Homo sapiens: one gene and its partners. The protein of the gene in region 1 purifies or fractionates together with the protein of each later gene. This does not show direct contact. Each region holds a gene or a part of one and is shown in the gene's direction. Other genes may lie near its edges. The genes, in order: HS3ST3B1, ARHGAP40 and ATL3.

Region 1 (3,998 bases):
ACTTCCCCCAGCTAGCGGTTGCTGTTTCTTGGAAGACGCGTTTATCCGCCCCAGTCCCGGGTGGGTGGGTCATTTTGCCAAAGAAAATGTGGTTGGGGGTGACTTCGAGTAGACTTTCACTATTAAATAAGTGCACCTCAGTGATGGATTTGTTCCAAATTGATGTTTGACTTTTAAAAAAGCGGTGGTGAATGACAACACGAAACAATCAGTGTCACAGGTTAGCAAATCACACTGTCTCCTAAATTAAGGCAAATGTTGGCTTTATATCTATTCAGGAAAAAGGGGGAGATGGAAAGTTTTCTCAAACCTAACGTCTCCAACAAACTCATATCCAGATAAAACTTCCTACACATGACTCCCACGCACATGTTTCGACCAGGAAACTTTTGTTTACCAGACTCTCTTCCTGGTAATTTCTCCTGTCTCTTTTCCCCTCCCCAACCTACTTTCGGCAGTTTGGAAGGCTGGAGATTTTTGTTAAGGACACTTTACACTAATCTCAGTTAACCGGCAGGCCAAGCTAACCTGGCAAAGAATAAGAAGGAAAGACACACACACACACACACACACACACACACACACACACACACGACAGCGATTTCCAAACATCCTTTCTACTTAAACTTCCTAATCCCGTGCCTGTCCCAGAAGGGTCTCCGAATGAGTCCCCGGCGTGGGTTGGGGGGGGGGTTCCAGTGCCTAGTGCATCTCCTACCCTGCTCTCCCTCCTCCAACCGCCTCCCTACTCTGCAACACGTAAGCATCACGAAACCTCCTGCGAAACATCTGGATGGGGACTGGTGTCCCAACATCTGGGCAACTACCGCCAAGGCTGGCTTCTAGGGAACGAGTGCGGAAATGCGTGCGGGTGTGGGAGCGCACCACTCAGTAGGGTAGGACCTCTCCCAGCGCTAGGTCACTGCAGCATTCTTCCCACCATCTGCTCCTGTCACCAGCCCCTAACTCCGCCCCTTTGGGCCCGCCCCTTGTTCCGAAGCCAATAGCAACCCCTGACCGCCCTACACCGCCCAGAAGCCTTTCCACACCCCCTCGTCCTGGGAGCGGGTTGGCTGCTGAGCTCTCGGAGAAGCGCCTGTATTTGCATGGCGTTCGGGGTTTTTGGTAGGTAGAGCAGCCCGTCACTCTGGAAGGCCGGGACCGCCCACTCCACCTCGGTCCACAGCTCTCTTCCTGCGCAGTTCGCCTCTGCAGCCTCTGCGGGGAAGTGCCGGGGCTGCTCGAGGCTCAGTTCTTAGGACTGCAAGGAGGCAGCCCCGGCGTGCGGCGGTGCGCACAGTCTAGAGTGGCCAGGGCGCGAGAGTGCAACGTCCTCCTGGCCCCGAGCGCGTCGTCGCGCCCCGGGAGCAGACCCTCGCCCAGCAGTTACCGCCGTCCCGACTTTCCGTTCCAGTTGCAGCTCCTGCCGGGCAACATGTCAAGAGCCGCCGCCGCTACAGCTGCCGCCGCCACCTGGGGAAGAGCAGCAGCAGCAGCGGCGGCCGCGGGCACACGGGGGCAATAAACCGAGCCACCCGGGCGTCCAGCGTGCCGGGGAACCCTCTCTGCGCTCACTGCCCGGCGGGACCCACGCCATGTGCTGAGCCATGTCCCTGGCCGCGCCCGCGGGCAGCGCATGGGGCAGCGCCTGAGTGGCGGCAGATCTTGCCTCGATGTCCCCGGCCGGCTCCTACCGCAGCCGCCGCCGCCCCCGCCGCCGGTGAGGAGGAAGCTCGCGCTGCTCTTCGCCATGCTCTGCGTCTGGCTCTATATGTTCCTGTACTCGTGCGCCGGCTCCTGCGCCGCCGCGCCGGGGCTGCTGCTCCTGGGCTCTGGGTCCCGCGCCGCACACGACCCGCCAGCCCTGGCCACAGCTCCGGACGGGACGCCCCCCAGGCTGCCGTTCCGGGCGCCGCCAGCCACCCCACTGGCTTCAGGCAAGGAGATGGCCGAGGGCGCTGCGAGCCCGGAGGAGCAGAGTCCCGAGGTGCCGGACTCCCCAAGCCCCATCTCCAGCTTTTTCAGTGGGTCTGGGAGCAAGCAGCTGCCGCAGGCCATCATCATCGGCGTGAAGAAGGGCGGCACGCGGGCGCTGCTGGAGTTTCTGCGCGTGCACCCCGACGTGCGCGCCGTGGGCGCCGAGCCCCATTTCTTCGATCGCAGCTACGACAAGGGCCTCGCTTGGTACCGGTGAGTTTCCCTGCCAGGGGCAGGGTCTCCATCGTCGATTCAGACCCTGAGCTAAGGGAGACATGGCGTATGATAGGGAATTGGCAGGGTTACAGCTTCGGACCACCCGGGGTAGGGCAGGGAAACTACGGCAGATTGCGCAGCGCATCCTGTCCGGGTGCGGTGAGGGTTGCGCTCCGCTTGGTTCTCGTCACAACCCACAGAAAGTTCTCGCGGAGCACTGGTGCCCTTGAATTCATCAGGCGACCTCGCCGCAAAGAAGAAGGGCAGCGACTGAGACCGCCCTCAGCAAAGCGAGCCACCCTCTAACCATGGGGGTATCCGACTCGAATCGTATTTTATGACTCGTTTTAAATTTTTTCCTCCCGGAGCCCGAGACGCTGGGAATGTTCTGAGCCCCTTTGGTCGGTCTCCGCCCTCAAGGAACTTCTAGAGCAGCTTCTGCTTCCCAGATGGGGAGAGGGGGTGGGGGCCGCGGCGTCCCGGCGAGGCCGCAGAGTCTGTTAACTTTTTGTTACAGTCCGCCTGGTTACCGGAACCCCAAGGGTGTCAGACCCGCCTCGCTCGCGAGCCGCCTGGGCTCGGGAGGGTGAGCCGGGCGGGTGGCCCGGCGCCTCCGCCTGGCGGGCGGGCGGCGCGCGGAGCGTGGAGCTGTGCTGGTCCCTGTCGGGCAAAGGCGCGCACTGCAACCGGCTGGAGCGGCGCGAGGCTTTGAAGGCGTCCGGGCCTCCGGGCACCGCCGCCCGTTTCCGCCTCCCTGCCCTCGGTGCTGGGATAGGGAAAGCAAGGACGCGTGTCTCCGCGGGGCTTTTACACGTCCGGAGCAAAGAATATTCGGGGCCCATTGATTGAGAAATGAGGGTTGCTTCGAGGTCGCGGCTTCCGGAAATTCTGTTCTCGAGTCGGGTTGCGGGTCAGGTTCCAAAGGGACAGTGGCCCCGGGGTCACAATCACTACCTCTGCCCACTGCTTTCCGCAGCTGCTGGTCTTTGGGGTGAGCTGTTGGGTTGCCCGAGCTTCGGGTAAGGCGCGAGTGGGCAGGAGGTCTAGATTTCGGCCTCCGATAACTGTCTTCGACTAGGGGCCCAGGTAACGACCCCCACATTTTCGTTGGGGTCTCCACCCGTAACCCCAGCCAGCACGACATTCAGACACCCCTCCAGGCCCAATTAGCTTCACAGACGCTCAAGACTTGGGAAAACAAAAGAGGAGAAGATAACTGAACCCCTCTCCCTGTGCCCACCCCACTGTCGGGACCTGGGTGGGTTGGAGAATAAAAGAGGGCTGACCCCGCGGATTAAAACGGCTCCCTTCCCAGCCTCGTCCTACCCCTTCCCCTTTGTCCTTAATGGTTTTTTATTATTGTCAGGAGTTGCCCAAGTCTCGAGGTTTAGCCAACCGTGACAGTCATCTTTCCCACCGTTCCCGGGCTGTGACCCATTCTCGGGACACTGGTGGATAAGAATGGGGTCTCTGGAGTCCGACGCCTGGATTCACGTCCTGGCTAGTCGCGTGAACCTTGGTGCTCTCATCTGTGCAGTGGGAATAATGCAGGTTCTGGGCAGGGATGGGAAGAGTGAATGCGCTGGTACGGTAAGGTGCCTCGCAGGCACGTGAGGGCCTCTCTAATCGTTAGCTATTGTCACCGATTGTATTGTTATGACTTCTACCACCACCACTCCCCCTCCTCCTGGGATGGTGATTCCAGGGCCAGGCGGCAGGCTATAACTAGCGCCCTTCCAGGTGGAACCCGCCAGAGCCCCGAGGCAGCCTAGGATTTTCTGAGATCAGACACACTTGGGCCGGGT
Region 2 (2,399 bases), on another chromosome or scaffold:
TTGCATGTACTCCTGCTGTGTGTACAAGTGCACCGACACAGGCATAGAAACACAAACATAGGCATAGAAACACAAACACACATCTGGAATGTGTATGTCTGTGATCTGTGCCCAAGTGTCCGGTATGCGTGTGTGTGTATCTTGTGATTTTCAGCGTGGGCATTTGCGTAAGTGCCATGTATGCGTGTTTATGCATCCACGTTGGAACTCCAGGCAAGCTGACTCTTATGTATATGGATCTTTCTCTCTCTCTCTCTGCAGACTCCCAAGGTGGCAAAGATCCAGGTGGTCTGGCCTATCAAGGACCCCTTGAAGGTGCCTCTCACCCCCAGCACCAAAGTGGCCCACGTCCTGAGGCAGTTCACAGAGCACCTCAGCCCTGGTTCCAAGGGTCAAGAAGACAGTGAGGACATGGACAGCCTCCTTCTACAGTAAGAGGCACCTCCTGGAGGCAGGAGCCTCTTCCCTGCAGGGAGGGCTCTGCACCCCAGAGCTGAAGGCCACCAGGGGGTTACACATACTGTTGGCCTGACCTGGCCTTCCCTTTCTGGGGTGGTCAGATGGGTTCTCCAATCTTAGAGAGTTTCTTGGCTCCAAGTAATAATCATGATGACCACCACTCACTCATTCACTTTAATAGGTATTTAATGAATGCCTACCACCAGGCACCATGTTTTTCTGTTGGTTTGTTTGTTTGTTTGTTTGTTTGTTTTGAGATGGAGTCTAGCTCTGTCACCCAGGCTGGAGTGCAGTGGCTCGATCTTGGCTCACTGCAACCTCCTTCTCCCAGGTTCAAGCGATTTTCCTGCCTCAGTCTCCCAAGTAGCTGGGATTACATGCACCTGCCACCATGCCTGGATAATTTTTTTGTATTTTGAGTAGAGACAGGGTTTTACTATGTTAGCCAGGCTGGTGTCAAACTCCTGACCTCAAGTGATCTGCCCACCTCAGCCTCTCAAAGCGCTGGGATTACAGGCGTGAGCCACCGCACCTGGCCCACCATGTATTAAGAGAATTATAGACTAGCCATGAAAAGAACAGACAGAGGCCCTGCTCTTAAGAGCTCACAGTCCTGAGGAAGACCTGGATATAAAGCAGATAGTCACGAATCAAAGATCAAGTTACAAACTGTATTAGGTTTCATAAGAAATGCAGGGAACAATGTGTCTGGAAGCCAAGGAAGCTGGTGTCATCTGGGAGCGAGGTGAGGCTTCCAGGCACAGAAAACTGCACAGTAAAGGTCCTGCAGCAAGGAGCAGAGCCTGGCCAAGGATCTGGAAGAAGGTCGGGGGCTGATGTGCAGCCATCATTCCTAGGGTACAGGAAACAGCCTGAGACCTCAAGAGCTTCCTTGTTGGCATTGGCACAAGGGACCCTCAGACTGTCATCTTCAGCAAGTATCTGATCCAGCTCCTCCTTGAACAGATGGGAGCACTAAGACTCAGAAAAGAGAAGGGACTTGCCTTAGGCCACATGGCAGAAAAGAGGCCATGGAATTGAACTCAGGATACCCATAATTATCATATAATAATTGTGATTCTTACATGATAGGCATCATTATCATATGTAATCATACAATGTCCATAATCCATCTTGACTCAAAATCTTCCCCTCACAGCAGGCTCCTGTCCCCATCTGTCACCACTCATTCCCTTGCCTTCGCAGTCTCCATTCTGATGCCCAGAAGAAAGGGGCCTCGCAGCGGGGTGCACCCCTGGCTGAGCCTCACCACGTGCCCTCCAGCTACCTCTCCCCAGCCCCTGGGTGCTGGACTCTGTCACTGGCTCCAGCTCTCTCAGGAGGGTCCTTATGCTGCTTCTCCCCAGCAGGACCAAAAATCAGTGAGGACTGCCCTTTCCAGGGCTGGGGGCCATGCACAGTTGTTGGTCTTGATGTTTCCAGAAGAAAAAGGCAGTAGTTTTTTTTTTCTCTCTCTCTGTTTTACAGCCATAGGTCCATGGAGTCAGCCAACATCCTCCTCTATGAAGTTGGAGGGAATATCAGTAAGTTCCACTGTGGGAAACAGGAACAGAGCCCGGGTCCCTGGGAGTTCTTCGACCTCAAAGGCTCACTGGGCCCTTCTGTGGGAGGCCAGAGTAGGCCTGCAGATGAGCCCTCCCTTCAGGTCTCTGTCTTCAATGAAACCAGGTGGAGTCCTGCTGTAAGGTTAAAGGTTAGCCTGTGCAAGTCTTAGGAGCCTATCCTGGAGTTTGGATTTTGCCTAGAGCTGGCCTCAGGCTTGCAGAGAGATGCAGAAGATTTGTTTAGTGTGAAGGTTCACAGTAGCACCAGTGAAACCGACGCCTCTGGGACACCCTAGCTGGGATGGACTTCATCCCTGGCCTAGGGGCCAAGGAGTCCTTAAGGAATTCTGCAAACACATATCCAGCTCTGGGAGT
Region 3 (3,727 bases), on another chromosome or scaffold:
CCTTCAACCACATTATGGTACATGTCATTCATTCATTTTACAATAGTTTATTGGCCGGGTGCGGTGGCTCACGCCTGTAATCCCAGCACTTTGGGAGGCTGAGGCAGGTGGATCACAGGGTTAGGAGTTCGAGACCAGCCTGGCCAATATGGTGAAACCTTCTATCTACTAAAAATACAAAAATTAGCCGGGCATGGAGGTGCATGCCTGTGGTCCCAGCTGCTCGGGAGTCGCTTGAACCCGGGAGGCGGAGGTTGCGCTGAGCCAAGATCGCGCCACTGCACTCCAGCCTGGGCAACAGAGCGAGACTCCGTCTCAAAAAAAAAAAACAAAAAAACAATAGCTTATTGTATGTGCTGTGTGTCATTACATTGATATTGCTCATTACATTCACATTGCTCAGTACGCTTTTTTTTAAAAGACAGAGTTTCGCTCTGTTGCCCAGGCTAGAGTGCAGTGGCGCAATGTTGGCTCACAGCAACCTCTGCCTCCCGGGTTCAAGCGATTCTCCTGCTTCAGTCTCCCGAGTAGCTGGGATTACGGGTGCCTACCACCACGCCCAGCTAATTTTTTATATTTTTGGTAGAGATGGGGTTTCACCATGTTGGCCAGGGTGGTCTCGAACTCCTGACCTCAAGTGACCTGCCTGCCTCGGCCTCCCAAGGTGCTGGGATTACAGGCATGGGCCACCGAGGCTGGCCTCGCTCAGTAAACTTTTAATAGTGAAATAGATAAAACAAAAAGATCTGGTATGATGAACTTAATTGTAAAGTCCTGGAAGACTGTTGTGTTGGCTGCTAGGCTTGGCTGTATTTGATGGAGCCTCCAAATAAGTGATTTAAGCAAGGTAGACATTTATTTTTCTTTCACACAGAAGTGAACCAATATGGCAGTTCTGCTATACGAAATCTGACCTCTCTTGTTTCTCCAGCATTCCTGGGGTGTTGCCCTCATATGCCTGGCCCAAGATGATTCACTCCCACTTTTACATCTAGCCAGCAAGCAGGGGGAAAATGCCTGATCTGGAAGTTGTGTCTGTTATTTCCAGTCACTTCCCATTGTTCAGAATTTAGTCACCTGGTCATATCCTAGCTATAAATTTGGGTTGGAAATGTGTTTCTTCTGGGCAGTTGTATGCCCAGCTAAAAATCTATTATATAGCAGGAGGGAGAAATTAATATTGGGGGAACAACCAGACATCTCTGCCACAATCAAGACTTTGTTTTGTATTTCTTTGAGTGCTACACAGTACTTAACACTGTGGCTTATCCCTGAAGTCTGAATAAATTCTTCTCATTAGTTCTTTGTATGAAAGACTGAAGGTCTTTGGATCTTGGATTTACCTGCTGCTGGGGCAATAAGAACCCTAAGAGATTATTCACAGAAGTGTTTCCTTTTTAATCCAGGCAATAACAGGAAAGAAAAGTATTAGTATACATTGATTACAATGATAGCATGACATTTAACCTATATTTATAACTTGTTTTCCAATAGTCTGCAAAAACTTAAAAAGTAGGAAGAAGCCAGCCACAGTGGCTATCATCCACATTCACAGTGGCCTATCATCCCAGCATTCTGGGAGGCTGAGGTGAGAGGATCACTAGAGCCCAGGAGTTTGAGACTAATGTGGGCCACATAATGAGACCCCCATCTCTACAAAAAAATTAAAAAATTAGCCAGGCATGGTGGCACACACCTGTACTGCCAGCTACTCTGGTGGCTGAGGTGGGAGGATTGCTTGAACCCAGGAGTTTGAGGCTGCAGTAAGCTAGGATTGCACCACTGCATTCCAGCCTGTGTGCCAGAGCAAAATACTGTCTCCAAAAAAAAAAAAAGTGCGAAGAACCCTTCTGTTGCTATCTGATACTATAAATGTAAAAAGTGAGCAGCAATTCCAGTAGCTTGAAGGGGAGAGAGTCTTGCAGTCAAACTGTTTTGTCTGCTTTGCCTGCCATGATCGTGTAGCCTTCAGTGCTGGTTAGACAAAGTCATTTTGGAACCATCTTTGTGATTTTGGCCATGTCTGCCTGTCAGTACTAAGCTTTACTTACTATGTCTCCTTAAGTCTACTTTAAATGGACTTCTTGGCTGGGTACTGTGTCGCTGTGATTTTGGCCATGTCTGCCTGTCAGTACTAAGCTTTACTTAATATGTCTCCTTAAGTCGACTTTAAATTGACTTCTTGGCTGGGTACGGTGTCGCTGTAATCCCAACACTTTGGGAGGTTGAGACGAGTGGATCATTTGAGCTCAGGAGTTCAAGACGGGCCTGGGCAACATGGTGAAACACTGTCTCTCCAAAAATACAAAAATTAGCTGGGTGTGGTGATGAATGCCTGTAGTCCCAGCTACTTGGGAGGCTGAGGTGGGAGGATGACTTGGGCCGGAGAGGCAGAGGTTGCAGTGAGGCAAGATTGTGCCATTGCACTCCAGCCTGAGTTATAGAGCCAGACCTTGTCTTAAATAAATAAACAGACTTCTTAAACTTAGCATCCTTCTAAAGAATAATTTATCAAAATACAGATTTGTTGTTTTAAAGTATACATTAACATGCATAATTATTAAAATTACTATGTCCTTTTAACTACCTAAAAACATCTTTAATACCAGTGACACATACTCTTAGGGAAATAGTTCTTTATTCATTCCTTACGCCCCACTGGTAGTTTTTTGTGAACTTCCCATAAGTCCACAGCTACTAAGTGGCTCTGAATTTCTTTCTTTCTTTCTTTTTTTTTTTTTTTTTGAGATAGAGTCTTGCTCTGAAATCTAGGCTGGAGTGCAGTGGCACGGTCTTGGCTCACTGCAGCCTCCACCGTGCAGGTTCAAGTAATTCTCCTGCCTCAGCCTCTGGAGTAGCTGGGATTACAGGCACCCACCACCACGCCCGGCTAATTTTTGTATTTTTAGTAGAGATGGAGTTTCACCATGTTGGACCAGGGTGGTCTCGAACTCCTGACCTCAGGTGACACGCCTGCCTTGGCCCCCAAAGTGCTGGGATTACAGGTGTGAGCCACCATGTCTAGCCTGAATGAATTTCCTTCTTGCTTTCTTTTCACTTTTTTTTTTTGAGACGGAGTGTCACTCTTTTGCCCAGGCTGGAGTGCAGTGGTGCAATCTCAGCTCACCACAACCTCCACCTACTGGGTTCAAGCGATTCTCCTGCCTCAGCCTCCTAAGTAGCTGGGATTACAAGCACGTGCCACCACACCGGGCTAATTTTGTATTTTTAGTAGAGATGGGGTTTCTCCATGTTGGTCAGGCTGGTCTGGAACTCACAACCTCAGGTGATCTGCCCGCCTCGGCCTCCCAAAGTGCTGGGATTGCGCAGGTGAGCCAGCACGCCCGGCCCCTTGCCTTCTCTTCTCTTCTCTTCTCTTTAAGACAGTCTCTCGCTATATTGGCCAAGTTGGTCTTGAACTCCTGGCCTCAAGCAATCCTGCCATCTCAGCTTCTCTAAGTGCTAGGATTACAGGCGTGGATGCTGTGCCTGGCCTGAATTTCAAATTAATTAGTTATCTTTGTGCTTTGGTAGGGAAACTCTGGTAAGGAAAGTATAATATAGTTAGTGCTTAATTTTGAACTATAGAATTAATAGCTTCTAAAACTTTTTGAGTTATTACTAGTGATATGCAAAATACAACCACCTAAAGATCTTTTTGAGCTTATATCTAGGACCTGTTGGGCAATATGCTGAACCTTCATAAGCCTTCATTTCCTTCTTTTTT

The links.
Region 2: the proteins of HS3ST3B1 (region 1) and ARHGAP40 purify together in Homo sapiens (affinity purification with mass spectrometry; one large-scale study listed by BioGRID and IntAct). This does not show direct contact.
Region 3: the proteins of HS3ST3B1 (region 1) and ATL3 purify together in Homo sapiens (affinity purification with mass spectrometry; one large-scale study listed by BioGRID and IntAct). This does not show direct contact.

The regions. Positions count from the first base shown.
Region 1 is NC_000017.11:14,299,883-14,303,880, forward strand, and holds the start of HS3ST3B1 (heparan sulfate glucosamine 3-O-sulfotransferase 3B1), read left to right. Parts: upstream 1-1,198; 5' UTR 1,199-1,636; coding exon 1,637-2,190; intron 2,191-3,857; exon of another isoform or gene 3,858-3,998. UniProt on the Homo sapiens protein: Sulfotransferase that utilizes 3'-phospho-5'-adenylyl sulfate (PAPS) to catalyze the transfer of a sulfo group to an N-unsubstituted glucosamine linked to a 2-O-sulfo iduronic acid unit on heparan sulfate.
Region 2 is NC_000020.11:38,646,696-38,649,094, forward strand, and holds part of ARHGAP40 (rho GTPase-activating protein 40), read left to right. Parts: intron 1-261; coding exon 262-431; intron 432-1,947; coding exon 1,948-2,003; intron 2,004-2,399. UniProt on the Homo sapiens protein: GTPase activator for the Rho-type GTPases by converting them to an inactive GDP-bound state.
Region 3 is NC_000011.10:63,661,231-63,664,957, reverse strand, and holds part of ATL3 (atlastin-3), read left to right. Parts: intron 1-3,727. UniProt on the Homo sapiens protein: Atlastin-3 (ATL3) is a membrane-anchored GTPase that mediates the GTP-dependent fusion of endoplasmic reticulum (ER) membranes, maintaining the continuous ER network. It facilitates the formation of three-way junctions where ER tubules intersect.